Linked DNA regions of Homo sapiens: region 2 is linked to region 1. Evidence: fine-mapped expression QTL. A gene starts in region 1. The other region holds a variant in brackets. All regions are shown on one strand. Distances are between the middles of the regions.

Evidence for each region.
Region 2: its variant is fine-mapped to the expression of MMEL1 in esophagus muscle (GTEx, PIP above 0.99).

Annotation. Positions count from the first base shown.
Region 1 is chr1:2,628,956-2,637,278 of GRCh38, reverse strand. MMEL1 (membrane metalloendopeptidase like 1) reads left to right here and starts at 4,263. Exons shown (of 24, transcript NM_033467.4): 1 at 4,263-4,413; 2 at 7,758-7,948. The coding sequence starts at 7,795. TTC34 (tetratricopeptide repeat domain 34) reads left to right here. Exons shown (of 9, transcript NM_001242672.3): 9 at 1-293. It overlaps MMEL1-AS1 (MMEL1 antisense RNA 1), which reads right to left. Exons shown (of 3, transcript NR_183343.1): 2 at 4,604-4,777; 3 at 659-923. RefSeq lists an enhancer at 6,033-6,533 and a silencer at 7,715-8,009.
Region 2 is chr1:2,598,134-2,606,456 of GRCh38, reverse strand. MMEL1 (membrane metalloendopeptidase like 1) reads left to right here. Exons shown (of 24, transcript NM_033467.4): 8 at 91-209; 9 at 834-899; 10 at 2,176-2,310; 11 at 2,484-2,573; 12 at 7,667-7,803; 13 at 8,157-8,250. Among named protein-coding and RNA genes, the nearest start is that of PRXL2B, 16 kb to the right of the region's middle. The variant G/A (reference allele first, on the strand shown) is at 4,104.

The sequences.
Region 1 (8,323 bases):
CTGCTTTCCTCTGATTGATCCCCACCCTTCACCTATTTTACATGTACCTATCTTTTCCTAATTCATTTTCTACACTGGCATGCCCACCTTTGAGTGGTACCTTTGTTTAAGCCTTTTTTGCATAATCAGAAGCCAATCAGCATGCACTCCCCCATTCTGAGCCCATAAATGCCCCGGACCCAGCCACACTAGGAGAGAAACCACCTGACTTCAGGTCGGGAACCACCCGTGCATCCCCTCTCTGCTGAGAGCTGTTCCGTCTCTCAATAAAATTCTTCTCTGCCCTTCTCACACTTCGATTGGCAGCATCTCCTCATTCTTCTTGGACACGGGACAAGAACTTGGGAACTGCCATACATGGGTACAAGCTATAACACAAGCAGGCTGGAACATGCCCAGCCCAGCCACAGGCTGAGCTGGTGAACAGCCAGGTGTGGCCCAGGCAGGCTGAGTGGGTGGGCCACCTCCTGCGGCAGGTAGCATGGCCAAGAGAGGCCTGGGGAGGGGGGGTGTCAGCAGCCAGAGGTACCTGGCTGGCAAAGTGACCAAAGAGGTACCTGACTGTGTCACTTTGAGGGCCTGTCTCTGGGGACCCCCTCCTAGTATGAATTTATGTATCAGTTGGGGTCTACTTGGGAGATGGAAACCACAACAGTGATTCTAATAGCATGAATTTAATGTGCAGAATTTTTCATTAGTTCTGGGTAAAAACAGCTCTAGGGAATCATGGAGGTTGCAACCACAAAATTCAGAGAGGTGACCTGGCTGGCGACACTGGTGATAATGGTCACCTGCCATGCAGCCTTTCAGCTCAGGTGGGCACACTCCTCTGCCCCTGCCCACTTCCTCTCCCAGGTGAATCTTGACCACACCTGTGCCTGGCACTGTGCACACATTCTCTGTTGTTCAACTCTGCGATCAATCTGGAAAAAAAAGAAAAAAAAAAAACCTTTTTAGGAGAGTAAAAGGAAAATAAATCTTGGGGCCCCAAAATCACTAAGCCAAAGGGAAAAGTCAAGCTGGGAACTGCTTAGGGCAAGCCTGCCTCCAATTCCATTCAAAGTCATTCCCCCGCTCGCTGAGATAGATGCATATCTGATTGCCTTCTTTGGAAAGGCTCATCAGAAACTCAAAAGAATGTAACTCTATCTTACATGTGTTGATTGATGTCTCATATCTCCCTAAAATGTATAAAACCAAGCTGTCCTCTGACCACCTTGGGCACATGTCAGGACCTCCTGAGGCTGTGTCACAGGTGTGCATCCTTAATTTTGGCAAAATAAACTTCCCAAATTGGCTGAGACCTGTCTCAGATTTTTGGAATTCACAAGTGAGGAGGCAGAGGCTCCAGCTACTGGGGATGGGCTGGTGGCTCAATGACACAGATTTTGGGGCAGCGGGACCACTGGGCCCCTTCCCTCCTGCCCTGGATACCCAGGGCCTGACTTCAGGAGGCAGCTGACAAGGAAGGTGGGGACCCCAGAGGCCCGGCTGTCGTCCCAGCAGCCGGAAAGAGGCTCACCCAGAAATGCTGGTGAGCCTCTTCTGACCTGTGCATCTTCTCTAAGTGGGGCACCTCATTCCTGCCCAGAGCGTAGCTGGGCAGACCTGAGGGAGAGGCCCTGCTCCCAATGGGCAGAGGAAATGCCCGTTGGGCACGTCTGGGGTGCACCAAAGCACAGGACCTGCCACCAGTAGCCTGGCCTGAGAGTGTGGGGCAGTCACAGGCAGGCGTCTCCAGGGCCTGAGGGCAGCCCCCAAGGCAGGGTGGACACGGCAACCTGGGTGAGGGCAGCCCCACAGCAGTGTGGACAAAGGCTAGTGCCCTCAAGGCCCACCCTGGCCCCAGGGCTGCTGCAGGAAGCACTTCCCTGACCCCCGTCCCACCTGCCTCCTTGGACCCCTGAGCTGGGGCTGCTCCTTGGATCTCCACATCCCACAGCAACCCAGAGAGTAGGAGGGGCAGGGAACACCCATTTTCCCCCAATCTCCCTAGGAGATGGGATTAATGTCCACCTCCGGGGTGCTGGGCTCTGGCTATGCGGGTGTCTGGGGGGACAATCCATGCAGGTATTTGCGGGGGATGGTCTGTGCGGGTGTCTGGGGGGATGGTCTGTGTGGGTGTCTGGGGGGACAGTTTATTCTGTGTAGGTTGTCTGGGGGGACAGTCTGTGTGGGTGTTTGGGGGCATGGTCTATGTGGGTGTTGGGATGGTCTGTGCGGGTGTCTGGGGGGACAGTCTGTGTGGGTGTTTGGGGGCATGGTCTATGTGGGTGTTGGGGGGATGGTCTGTGTGGGTGTTTGGGGGGCCAGTCTGTGTGAGTGTTTGGGGGCATGGTCTATGTGGGTGTTGGGATGGTCTGTGTGGGTGTTTGGGGGGACAGTCTGTGTGGGTGTTTGGGGGCATGGTCTGTGTGGGTGTTGGGGGGATGGTCTGTGTAGGTATCTGGGGGGACAGTTTATTCTGTGTAGGTTGTCTGGGGGGATGGTCTGTGCGGGTGTCTGGGGGGATGGTCTGTGTGGGTGTCTGGGGGGATGGTCTGTGTGGGTGTCTGGGGGGATGGTCTGTGTGGGTGTCTGGGGGGACGGTCTGTGCGGGTGTCTGGGGAGAGAGTCATCTGTGCAGGTGTTTGGGGCGGCTGGGTTGCACTGCCCTGGGCACCTGCAAATCTGTGAGTGTCCAGTGACCGGGGTAGGTCTCGGGGTCTGCAGCCTCCTTGGCCTTTAGCCTCCTTTCCCAGTTTCTCTTGTCTGGCAGGTGCCAGGCTAGGACCCAAGCCTCCTGCTGTCACCTAGAAGTAGGGAGAACCTGGGAATAAGGGGTCCCAAGTTTGGCAGCCCAGGTCACCAGGTGGCCTTGGGCCAGGCTGGGGGCTGCTGGGCTGGACAGGCCTGGGGTTCGGGAAGGAGGAGCATGCACAGGGCCAGCCTTGGGGAGTCGGTTCAGAGTCCAGGGAGCCCCTGCTGAGAGTAGGCCAGGCCCCTGCATCTGTTTCTCCCTCTGTGGATTTGTACCTTAGAGACAAGAACACTGTGACATCCAGAAAGGGCCTGCTGGCACCAGGGCTGTCGGGCAGGTGGGCTCGGAAAGGCTCTGGCCTCTCCCCATAGCAGGAGCCTCCAGCCAGGCTGGACCCTGGCCCACTCCCAGCTCCCCAGAAAGGGCGGTCCCAGCTTCCTGCTTGGCTGGCCTTGACATTGTTTCCATTTGGGCCAGCAACCCAGGCAGCCTGAGGCCAGACTGCAGCTCCTGGGCTGGTTGCTGGGCGTGATGGCAGGGGGCTGCTAGGACAGCCAGCGGGCCCCAGGGAGAGACTTCCCGGGCTCAGGGTGGTGTCTGGGATCTGATCCCAGCCTGGCTGCAGCTCGAAGCCTTTCTCCTCCCAGGGCCTGGCCAACCTAAAGGGCCATAGACAAAGCTTCCAACAGCACTCAGCGTGGGAGACCTGGCCGGGGCGGCCGTGAGGAGCAGTTTGCCGTGGGACCCCTAGCTCTGTGGCCCAGCCCTGCCCAGATGCCCTGACACATGCCCAAGGCCTGGGCAGGAGGACTCGTTCTGGGGATTCTGAAACAGAAGCTAGAAACCTCATCAGGCCTGGAGAATCAGACAGAGACTGCTCTGCCCAGAACCCCCGTCCGCAAGCAGGGCTGGGTGCAGGGCTCACACTCTGATCACTGCGAACCCTTCAGAAGCCACAGAGCCCTTCTGCCAGCTCCCCGGCCAGGGCTGCCCACCCTCTGTAGCTTGAGGTCTGAACCTCATGAGTTTTCTGTGGGCAGAGGGAAGCAGCCAAACCCAGGCTAGTATCTCTGGGTGGGACCCTCCTGGCAGCCAGCGCCCACCCCCTTCAGGACCACCCCTTCCCCTTGCACCTTGGCAAGATCCCCAGAACCCACCATCCTCCTTGGAGATTGAAGAGAAAGAACACCCAGGGTGGGGCCTTTGTAACCCCCCACCGGGTGGTTAGGGGCAGAGCAGAGGGTGTGGAGTAGGACAAGGGCCTGACCTTCCTCCCAGCAGCCCCTGGGGCCCCTTTGGACTGAAAGGTCAGGAGACAGAAGCAAGGAAGGAGGGCGGCTTGGGAGGCGGGGCCAGAGGCCCTGAGAAGGGCACCCATGAGGCAGGGCAGCCCGGGTGCCAAGAAGCTGCCCTCAGCCCCTCCCCCCATGCCACACCCCCAGTGGAACCTCCTGACTGTGAGCAGGAGTCACCGCCTCCAGGGAGCCCATGCCTGCATCACAAAGGAGGCCCAGAAGCCTTCAGGCAGCCTCAACTCAGCCCCAAGCCACTGCTCTCCCATCCCAGTCCCTGGAAATCCACCCACTTGGCCCAGCTCACCCCAACTCCAACCCACTGGGACCCAGTCTCCAGGGGCCTGACTGTGGGCGGCAGCCACTCCTGAGTGAGCAAAGGTGAGTTGTGCTGAAGGAAGGTACCCGGCCTGCTTTCCTGGGCCTTGAAACCCTCTCCAGGCCCTCTCCTGGGCCTTGAAACCCTCTCCAGGCGCTCAGCCCCTTTCTCAGGAGGCTGGGCAGGGCGTCCTGTGTGCAGTCTCGCCTGTGCCAGGGCAGGCAGCCCCCTCTGGCATACGGTTTATCTTACCCAAAGGACCCGCTGTCCCCCATCTGTAGTAACCTGGAGAGGCCACGAGTGTCCCCAGGGAGCCGCAGTGCCTTCGCCTCAGCAGACACTCCACACCTGCCCCGGGTACTTGGCTCAATTTGAAGGTGTTTATTTTGTGTGTGCCGTGGGGCACATGGAGCCGTCTGTGGATACCTGCAGGACAGAATGAATTCAGGACGCAGGAGCAGATTCATTAATTCTGACCAAAGAAAGAAGTTCGTGGAAGCTGAGCTCAGACTTGTCCAAATGATTGATCCATTCATTCATCATTCATTCATTCATTCACCCAACAGATAATGACCGAGGTCTCTGGGGTGGGGGTGCCAGTCTAGGTGAAGCGGCCCCCACAGAGGGTGCCCCTGCCCGTGGAGCTGACGTTCCCAGGGGGCTGCAGAAGTATCGAGGAGATGTGGAGGTGGAGCTGGGAGTCCCTGGAGAGACACAGAGCAGGGGAGGGGCTGGGGCTCCCCGAGTTGAACCCGAGGCCGAGCCAAGGAAGGCCCCACTGGGAAGGGGAGCTTGGCAGGAATCTGGGAGGCCTGCCTGGGTGGGTGGGGAGGGTGGGGGGAGAAACCTGGTGGGCCTGCCTGAGGGTAAGGGGAGGGCATAGTGAGAGGGGAGGAGGGCCAAAGAGGGTCCTGACATCAGGGCAAGGCCCGGCTCTTCCTCCAAGGGTTTGGCTACCAGGGGCCAGGGAGTGACGGCCTCTGATTCTAGTTACAGGCCCCTGGGCCCCTGTGGTGGGGATCAGTGGGTGAGACAGACCCCTCAGGGGGAGGTGATTGGTGGGGCCTGGAACAGGCAGCGAGTGGCAGGAATGAGAAAGGGTCCGACTGAGATGGGCTTGGAGGCTGAGGACTGGCGCGGGGTGTGGACGCAGGCAAGGGAGGCAGATGGCTCCAAAGTCCAGCTTCAGCCAGTGGCGGGATAGGGGTGTCTAGGGGCACAGCAGAGGGCGTCAAAGGAAGCATCTGAGGGTGTGTGGATGCATGAACGCTGCGGTTCACAGAGCCAGGGACTGAGAGAGGTGGCTGAGGGGACAGGAAGGGAGGAGCGAGGGACCTGGAGGAGAGGAGTGAGGTCCAGGTCCCCGTCCCCGCTCCTCACACAGCCAGAGGTCAGGGATCTCTGGAGGAGTCGCTGAAATGAGCTGGCCCAGCCACCTTTGCAGGGTGTTGCCCAGACAGGCTAAGGGACATCTAGGATCTCCCAGGGAGTCAGGGACAGAACTCAGGCAAAGTCCACAGCAGGGGGGCGGTGGGGTACAGGGGGGCGGAAGCACATTTAGCCCAGGTGCTGGCAGTCTCAGCAGCCAGTCCCTGACCCACCCACAGGCAGGACTGGGCCTGGCTTCCTTTCGCTGCTCCCACATTATCCGCCCTGCCTGGTACAGGGCTAAGCTGGGGCTCAGCACAGCAGGTGTGTGATTGCGTGTGACGACTGAAAGTGCTGGAAGGCCAAAGCACCCAGCCGCTTCCCTAGGACCGGGCAACTTCCCAGCAGGGCTCCGAGTGCCAGCGAGGGATGTGCACATCCATGCATGTGCTCACATATGTGCACACACACACAGACATGCACAGCCACACACCAGAGCACACGCACACACGTGCACACCCACACACACAATCATGCACATGCACATGAGCGCACACGCACAGGTGCACAATCACAGTCACACACGTGCACACACGAGCGTACACGCACACACGTGCATATCCACGCACACAATCATGCACATGCACACACAAGAGCACACGCACACAATGCACAGTCACACACATGCACACACGAGAGTACACGCACACAGGTGCATATCCACGCACATAATCATGCACACGCACACACGAGAGGACACACGTGCACACTCAGGCACACACGTGCATATCCACATAATGCACATGCACACATGAGAGCACACGCACACGTGCACAATCACACAGTCACACACGTGCACACACGAGTGTACACGCACACACGTGCATATCCGCACACATAATCATGCACACGCACACACGCGAGCACAGGCACACACGTGCAGTCACACACATGCACACACGAGGACACACACGTGCACACTCACTCACAGTCACACACATGCACACATGAGCGTAGACAGTGCATATCCACGCAATCATGCACACGCACACACGAGAGCACACGCACACACGTGCACACACACACATGCACACACCAGAGCGCACACACACGTTCACGCTCATGCAGTCATGCACATGCACACACCAGAACATGTGCACACGTGTGTGTACACGATCATACATCAGAACATATGCACACACGCACAGTCATACACATGCACACGCCCAACTACATGCACACACTCATTTGCACACATGTGTACACTCAGGTTCACACTCCCACACATACACGCACACTGGAGCACGCAGACTTGGGAGCCTCCTGAGTCCAGTGTCCTGTGCCCCAACCCTTCCTGCCCAGCTCCCTGTCCTGCCTACAGCAGCAGCCTGTGCCCAGCCGTGTGTGTCTTCAAGTGCTGCCCACTGCCCTGCTGGCTCCAGAAGGTGTCCCCTCCATAGTAACAGGGTCAGGGGACGACCAGAGCTGCACACCAGCCAGGTGGCTGCCAGGGTTGAGACTCAAGCCTGCCTGGCCCTGCAGATCCCTTCCTGGCCCACGTAGTCACCGCCTGTGTGGGTACCTACTGTTCTGGTGTCGCCCATCACTGGCTTCTGGGCTTCAACAGGAAAGGTGGGCTGGGAGCCCAGAAGCCCAAGTGGCCTCCCCGACAGCGTCCCTGACCTAGCGCTCAGGCCCACAGCTCCAAGACAACCAGCATGAGCAGCCCAGGGGGGGGGCTCCACTACAGGAGTCCCTTGACAGCACAGGAGCTGAGCCTCCTGGGTCCAGCTTGCGACCCCAAGCTGGGAGCATCCCAGTCCTAGAACCTCCATGCACTCAGAGATTCCGGCCCAGGGGTAGTGTGGAAAGTCCCGGGACCCAGTCACCCAGGGTTGTGAGCTTGGAGAGGGAGACGGGAAGAGTGTTCCAAAGGCACCCAGCGCCCGCTCCCAGCCAGCATCCGGCCCTTCCAGCCTCGGGCCGGGCTCGGGGAGCTCCACGCCCCTCTCCCCTCTCCCCTGCCCTGGGCCTGCAGGTTCCTCCGCGGTGCTCTCCCGTCCAGAGCCCTGCTGATGGGGAAGTCCGAAGGCCCAGTGGGGATGGTGGAGAGCGCCGGCCGTGCAGGGCAGAAGCGCCCGGGGTTCCTGGAGGGGGGGCTGCTGCTGCTGCTGCTGCTGGTGACCGCTGCCCTGGTGGCCTTGGGTGTCCTCTACGCCGACCGCAGAGGTGAGTGCGGGTGCCCCGCCCCCGCCTGTCCCCGTGCCCGCTCTCCGCGCTCGCCCCGCTGCACCTGCTGCAGGGTCCGCCTGCCCCCAGCCCGAGCCCGCCCGTCAGATGGGGCAGGTGGGTCTGCACTGGGCACCCAGGGGCTCCCGGGGCCGAGCTGCGGACTCAGAGGCGGCGGGAGGGGCACTGACCTGCAGGGAGCCCGCGGTCCCTTCCAGAAAGCTCTGCCCCGGCCCCGACTCCCGCGCGCTGCTTCTGCAGCTCCGCACCCGCCCGCCTCCGCCTCCGCCTCCGCCTCCGCCGGACTCCCGGAGGGTGGGGGGCGCAGACCCGTCGCCCGCCCCTCCGCCCACCCCCTCCCTGCCTGGCCGCGCA
Region 2 (8,323 bases), 31 kb after region 1:
TCCTGGCTCCGGAGGCCAGATTCACCGACAAGGGGCCGGGCTGGGGCCCCAGGGCCCGCCAGTCTCCAGTGCGGGGCACTGTCTCCCCAGGACTCGAGTGGGAGCTGGAGCGGCAGCTGGCGCTGATGAACTCACAGTTCAACAGGCGCGTCCTCATCGACCTCTTCATCTGGAACGACGACCAGAACTCCAGCCGGCACATCATCTACGTACGAGCCGCGCCGGTGGGCAGGGGTAGGCAGGGTCCCCAAGCCTGGCTGGGGGCTCTTGCAGCACAGCAGAAGGATGGGCCAGGCCGACAGGGAGCTCCGGGGTCTCCTGGGACCTGGGCTCCTGGCTCCTGTCCACGTCCGTGGGCCCGGGAACGAGCTGCTGCTGCTGGAGTTTCTGTTGGGCCTCCTGGCCAAGCTGGGGGCCACAGTAGAACCCGGTTCTGGTCAGAGGGGCGGGGGCTCCTGAACAGCGGGGCTGGAACCGGGGCAGGAGGCCTGACCTCAGGGATCCACTGCTGGCCACGGGCTGGAGGCCAAAGAGAAACACACGAAACAAATACGCGCCCCACTCTGGGGGAGCCGCGGGTGCTGCGAGGCCCGGGACAGCCTGAACCCCTCCCCACCCCACCCCCGCCACCCTCTCCAGTCCAGCCCAGCGCCCCCACCATCACTCGGGGCAGGGTCTGGCCTCCCGGGTCCGGCACAAGCTCCACCACCAGCTCCTGGGCAGAGCACGTGTGCACGGGGCACAGTCCTGTGGGGAGGCGGCTGCAGCCTGCCTCAGCCAGGCTGCGGGGACCCCGGGCCCCTTGCCCAGGGTCACACCTTCTGTATTTCCAGATAGACCAGCCCACCTTGGGCATGCCCTCCCGAGAGTACTACTTCAACGGCGGCAGCAACCGGAAGGTGGGTGGGTCCTCACCGCAATGCCAGATGACCCCCCCATCACCCCCTACCCCGTGGTCTGGCCTTCCCGTTGCCCACCTGGCCTTCCCTCCCCGAAGCTGGTGTTAGTGAGCACCTGTGGAGGTTGAGCCCGGCACTGAGGGTGGCGGGTGCAGACGTGACCTATTGCTTGCCACCATCCTGGGGGACGTTCCCTCAACACCCGGGCCAGGCCTGGGGACAAGCTCAGCTCAGCAGCAGCCCCATGGGGCAGAACTGTCATCCCCCTCCCGTCAGTACAGACCCAGGCTCTGCAGCACCGGATTCCCAGGAGGGCCCCTGGAGATCTGAGTGCAGGCAGCTGGGCCCCGAGCCTGCTCCATCTCAAGGGGCTGTCAAGAGAGGGGAGGGATGAGGACCCCCACTGTGGACAAGGGGACCTTGAGGCTGGCAGGCCCAGGGCTAGCCCAGGGTGCAGGGAAGGGTGGGGAAGGACAGGGAGCAGGTGAGGAGGGCAAGGCATCCAGCACCAGGGCAGAGGTGAACAGGCATGAGGCATGAATGCCCCAGAGGGCCAGACACAATCCAGGGGGCCTCCTGGTGGAGGTGGGCTATGAACTAGACTTTGAAGGATGACCAAGCCCAGAGGAAGGGCCGTGTGGCCAAAGGTGGAGCAGTGGGGCTGAGAGAACCACGCCAGAGCAGGAGGGACTGGAGTGTCTCAAAAGCGCCATGTCTGGCCATGTGTTCAGACCAGGCAGCTATGGGCCAAGCCTGGCCAGAGCATTGGCCTGCACTGGGGAAGCCCTGCCCAGCGCGAGGAAGGCAGCTCCCTGAGGAGCAAACTTCCTCAGGATCCCACTCCAGACACTCAGGCCGGGAAGCACCTGGGTAGGGAAGCCCAAATTAGCCCTGGCACCCACCACCCCGGCACCCACCACCCTGGCACCCACAGCCCCGGCAGGCCCAAGTTAGCCCTGGCACCCCAAGCCCAGCACCCCAACCCCAGCACTGAGAGCCCCAGCACCCACCTGTGCAAACCCTTATAGGCAGCCACACAGTTTAAGCCCTGAGCAGCCCTGCAGACTAGGTACCCCGTCCAGTGGCTCGGGCACAGGTCACGCGTCTGAGACGCTCCCACTCGGCACTCTGTGTGCCCGAGAGCCTGCTGGTCAAGGTGGGTGGACACGCATTAGGGGCTTCCCCATGTCCTACGCCCACCCCACCCCCACAGAAAACTCCCTGGGGGCCATGGTGGCTGAGGCCACCCAGCTCTGCCCGGCGTCCTTTGGCCCAGGTGCGGGAAGCCTACCTGCAGTTCATGGTGTCAGTGGCCACGTTGCTGCGGGAGGATGCAAACCTGCCCAGGGACAGCTGCCTGGTGCAGGAGGACATGGTGCAGGTGCTGGAGCTGGAGACACAGCTGGCCAAGGTAAGGGGGCCGGGGCGGGTGGGGAGCGGGCAGCGAGTGGGCTGGGAGCCCCAGGCGGTGTGGCTGGCCAAGGTGAGGGGGTGCTGGGTGGGCCGGTAGCAGGCAGGGACTGGGCCAGGAGCCCCAGGGGGCATCCTGGCCACCCGCCCGTGTGACTGCTATCCCCGGCACAGGCCACGGTACCCCAGGAGGAGAGACACGACGTCATCGCCTTGTACCACCGGATGGGACTGGAGGAGCTGCAAAGCCAGTTTGGCCTGAAGGTGAGGCCACACCACACAGGAGGCCGGCACTGGCCGGGTGGAGACTCGTGGGGGACATGGAAGCGGCCCTCTGAGAGGGCACGTTGCCTGGCATTTAAGCTCAGAAACATTCCCCATCCCCGAGCAGGGAGACCCTGTACCTGATCACCCAAACTTGCTGCAGAGCAGCACCAGCACGATTACTAATGTCACTGGGACAGCAGTGCCAACTGTGCCATCCTGGAACAGAGTCACCCATCTGTGCGGTGCTGTGATGGCCCCGGTCTTCTGAGCAGGAAACGGAGGCCTCAGGGGGCTGCTGATGTGTGGGGGTGTACAGGGTCCCACCCAGGGCTCTCAGACCCCAAGTCCCGCTCAGAACCTTAGCAGGGTGCTTCCTCCCAGTCCTGCCTGCCCTGAGGGTAGCAGTTCCCCCTGGCCACACCCTCAGGCGCTCCCCTGCCCAGTGCCCAGGCCAGGCACCGCCCTGTGCTTTGAGGTGGGGGCTGGAGAGGAGCAGCCCAGCCTGGGAAGGGGCAAGTCCCCCACTCCCTCAGCCGACTCTCACCCTGCTGGAGCAGCTGGCCTTCTCGAGGGCCTCCTCCCCCAGGAGGCGCAGGCGTGCAGCTTCGGCAAAGGGTGCCCAAGTCAGTGGGGGGAGGGCAAGGGCAGAAGGGGGTCCAAAGCCCCTGCCCCCTCAACCAGAGTATGTCCCTGAGTGTCTGGAGCCACAGCTCTTGCCAAGGGCAAGACAGAGAGACTCTGGGGAGAGCCTCGCCCCAGGGCACCTAGTGCCTTGGAAGGCTGGTGGTCCCTAGATCGGTTCTGGTCCCCAGGGCTGGCCTGCGGGGACACACCTTCCCCAACACCCCGCTGCCCAGAACACACGCAGTGGGGCCAGGCTCTGCTCTGGCACTGGGCTTTATCCCCTTCCCAAACAAAGGCCTATCTCGATCGAGGTTCCGGTGCGGGAGAGGGACAGAAAAGCGGAGTGACCTCTAAAACGTGTCAGAAAGCCAGAAAGGGGGCAGGATGAGCTCAGCCAGGACAGCAGACAGGAGGTAAAGCCTTGCAGAGAACCAAGGGCCATGGCCATCTGGGGCCAGTGTGGCTCACACAGCAGTTCCCCAAGAGTCTGGGGCAGGGACTCCCAGCTAATGAGCACCGGGGCTAGAGAGAGATGGAGTAGGAAGTAAAGCGGGGGATGCCGTGTCCGACCTCGGGGGCCACTTGAAAGTCTCAGACTCTGCCCGAGAGGAGTGGGGGTATGACAGGACGTGACCTGGTTCACAAGTAAGAGTGAGTGAAGGGGACGGGGCAGGTGGCAGAGAAGCCAATCAGAGGCTGCCACGTAGCCCGGGCAAGAGATGGCAGCTCTGCCAAGGGGGGTGCCCGTGGTGGAGGTGGCTTTGGGGTTGATTTTGGAAGTGGAGCCAACAGGGTTTGCAAAAGGACTAAATATGGAAGTGAGAGAGCTCAGATGGCCTGAGGTTGCCGTGGAGACATCACAGCGGCAGGTTCAGGGGAGCGTCCAGGAGCCCAGGGTTTGGG[G/A]ACATTTGGTTTACAATGCATTTATGATGTTCAGAATCGCCCCAGAGTGAACACATCCACACAATCACCCCTCAGATCAAGACTTACGTGACCACCGACATCCCAGAAGCCCCCACATGCCCCTGCCTAGCCCCTGTGCCTGCCTCCTTCCCTGGAGAAGAGACCCTGACTTCTCCCTGGAGGGAGGCCGGTCCCTGACGTGGCCTCTAGATTGCTGAGTGGCCTCTGACTCTAAGAACATGCGACAACTCGGGTCCCACTGTGCTGTCTCTGGGCCTTTTCTGAGTGATGTTGTCATGCCCATGCCTGTGTGTGCCTGTGGCAGGCAAGTGGGTAGGAGTGGAATTGCTGGGTGGAAGCACACGCATCTGTTCAACAGTAACAGGCACTGTCTTTCCCCAGAATTATCCAGGGATGTGCGCTCCCCAACAGCGGCTGGTGCCACACCCTCGCCCGTGCTGGGTGGTGTCCGTTCTCAGCCGTTTCTGCACCTGTGTAGTGGGGTTTCATCTGGGTTCAATGTGACTTTCCCCAAGGGCGGAGGAGGTTAAACGCCATCTCCTGTCAATTGGCCAATGCCATTCCCTTTTGTGGAACGTCTGTTTGAGTCTTGCCCATTTGTTCTATCGGGCGATCTTTCTCTGATTGATTCTTGGAGTTACCTATTTTAGATGTGACTCCTTGGTCAGCTTATGTGTACAAATGTTCTCCCCACTGGGCAGCTTGCTTTTTTACTCTCATAAGGGTTTCTTTGTTTCAATGGAGGCTATTAAATGGTCCAATTTATTGGCTTAGCAAATGTGTGCAGATCTCTTCTTCGTGGTTAGTATTCTTTGTGTTCTGCTAAAGAACTCTTTGCCTACCCTCAGGTTTGCTTAGGTCTACAATCTACTGTGAGTTGATTTTTTTAATGGACAGTGAGATGTAGGAATTGTTTCTTTCTTATGGATTTCCAGTCATTCAGCACCATTTATTAAAAAGAGCCCCCTGTGAGCCCCTGGTCTTGGTGCCTTCTGTGTTATAAATCAGGTGTTCCTGTGTGTCTATGCGTGGGCCCATATGTATATTTCTGGACTCTCTTTTGCCCCACTGGTCTCTTTATCTATCCAAGTGATAACCCCTACCACCATCACTCCTTCAGCTTTATAATGTCTTGATAGTCAATAGAGTATATATTTCAACTTTGTTCTTCAAGAGTGTCTTGATAATTCTCAGTCCTTTGCATTTTCACATAAAACTTAAAATCTGCCTTCCATTTGCATACACGCACACACACAAAAAGAAAACTCTGCTAGAAATTTGATAGGGATCACTTTGAATCTCTCTATCAATTTGGGGAGACTTTGCAATGCTGAGTCTTCCAATCCATGAACATGATATATGCTTCCATTTATGCTTCAATTTTTCTTAATAACTTTTAAAGCTTTCAGTGTCAAGTTCTTATACATATTTTATTAGATAAATTACAGGTGTTTGGTTTTCTACTATAAATAGAATCATTTTGAAATTATCTTATTTGTTGCTGATATATGGAAATACTGACTTTGTAAATATGCAGTCTTACTCAATGCACTTATTAGTTCTGGTTATTTATTTGTAGAATAAACAAAATCATATCATTTGTAAAAAAACAGGGGGGTTGGGTTTTGTTTGTTTGTTTGTTTGTTTGAGACAGGGTCTCACTCTGTCATGCAGACTGGAGTGGAGTGGCACAGTCATGGCTCACTGCAGCCTTGACCTCTTGGGCTCAAGCCTCCTGAGTAGCTGCGACCACAGGAATACACCATGACCAAGCCTTGCCTGATTTTTTTTTTTTTCCCAGAAACAGGGTTTCTCTATGTTGGCCAGGCTGGTCTTGAACTCCTGTGCTCAAGCAGTCCTCCCGCCCTGGCCTCCCAAAGTGCTGGGATTACAGGCATGAGCCACCGCACCTGGTCCAGTTTTATTTATTCTCTTTCAGTTCTTACTGGCTTTATTTCATGTTTGCTTTTACTGAACTGGACAGGATTTTGAGCATAATGCTGATGTCATAATAGTAGACATTAAAAGAAAAGCACGTATATTCTTACCACTAAATTTTATGTTTGGCCAGGCATGGTGGCTCATGCCTGTAATCCCAGCACTTTGGGAGGCCGAGGCAGGTGGATCACCTGAGGTCAGGAGCTTGAGACCAGCCTGGCCAACATGGTGAAACCCTGTCTCTACTAAAAATACAAAAACTAGCTAGGTGTGTTAGCACATGCCTGTAATCTCAGCTACTAGGGAGGCTGAGGCAGCAGAATTGCTTGAACCCAGGGGTCAGAGGTTGCAGTGACCCAAGATTGCACTGCTGCACTTGAACCTGGGCAACAAAGCGAGACTCTGTCTCAAAAATAAATTTAAAAAAAAGTTATGTTTGCTATGGAGTTGTTTTTGTTGCTTCTGCTGCTTCATACATTTCCTTTATCAGGTTATAGAATTTTCCTTCTATTTTTCTTTTTATCTTTTTTTTTTTTTTGAGACAAAGTCTTGCTCTGTTGCCCAGGCTGGAGCGCAGTGGAGTGATCTCAGCTCACCATAACCTCTGCCTCCCAGGTTCAAGCGATTCTCATGCCTCAGCCTCCCAAGTAGCTGGGACTACAGCATGCGCCACCACACCCAGCTAATTTTTGCATTTTTAGTAGACACAGGGTTTCACCATGTTGGCCAGCATGGCCTTGAACTCCTGGCCTCAGGTGATCTGCCCGCCTCGACCTCCCAAAGTGTTGGGATTACAGGCGTGAGCCACTGTGGCTGACCCCTTCTATTTTTATTTGCCAAGAGTTTTTATTATGAATAGATGGCAGATTTTATCAAATGCTTTTTCTGCATCTGTTGAAATAATCATGTGACTTTCCTCCTTTATTCAGTTATTGTAGTGAATTAAAATTATTTTATTTTCAAATGTTACACCAAACTTGTATTCCTTGAATAAATCTAATTCAGCTGTGATATATTAGCATTTTATACAAGTATGGCTAGGTTCTATTTGCTAATATTTTGCTTAGAACTTTTGTATCTATGACATAAACGAGACTGGCTTATTATTTACTCTGCTTATAATATCCTTATTTTGGTATCAAGGTTATTCTTGGCCTCATAAATCAAGTTGAAAAGCATTTTCTCATCTCTGGAAAGTTTTAATAAGATTGGCAGTTTTCCTTAAATGTCAGATAGAATCCACTGGTGAAGCCAAATGGGTCTGGAAATTTCTTTATTGGAAAGTTTCAAATTAAATATTCCATTTATTTAACCTAGAAGACTATTCATATTTTCTATTTCTTTTTTTGTCATTTTTGCTAAGTTGTGTTTTTCTAGGAACTTGCCTGTTATACTTAGGCTTTCGCATATATCTGCATGATCGCTTGGGTTTTTACAGCTGTAGGCTCTGTAATAATGTCACCCACCCTTTCCTGATTCTGATTACCTGCACTTCTCTCTTATTCCTTGAACATTCTTCAACAGGGGCTGGGTTTCTTAGATTCCCAGGAACTGTTTCTCCCTCTCTCTCTCTCCCTCTTTCTCCCCACTTCCTCTATCTGCAGGGATTTAACTGGACTCTGTTCATACAAACTGTGCTATCCTCTGTCAAAATCAAGCTGCTGCCAGATGAGGAAGTGGTGGTCTATGGCATCCCCTACCTGCAGAACCTTGAAAACATCATCGACACCTACTCAGCCAGGTGAGGCCCAGGGAGGGTCTCCAAAGGCCTCAGCATCTTTGCCCCTGCTCTCCCATCCTCCCCAACACAGCTTCTGCTCCCAGGAGGGGACCCTATGAAGCATCTGCCCTGAGGGGTGTGGGACATGAGGGGTTAAGCTTTAGTGGCCAGTGGAGTCTTACATTAAAAATGTGTCACATCCCAAGCACCCGGGGCAGATGGGCTGGATCTTGGAGGTGGTTGTCCTGGAGGTTTTCTCCAGCACCCATAACTCTCTGGGGTGGAACGTGCTGGCCAAGGGCCCTAAGCCATATCTCCTCCCTTGCAAAGACCTCTCACCTGTTCTCCCCTCACCCTCTACCTTCTGCCCCCAGGACCATACAGAACTACCTGGTCTGGCGCCTGGTGCTGGACCGCATTGGTAGCCTAAGCCAGAGATTCAAGGACACACGAGTGAACTACCGCAAGGTGAGCCCCTTCCCTGCCCAGAGCCTGGCCGGGCACTCATTCATTCAGGCCACGATGCTGAGCATAAGCTGTA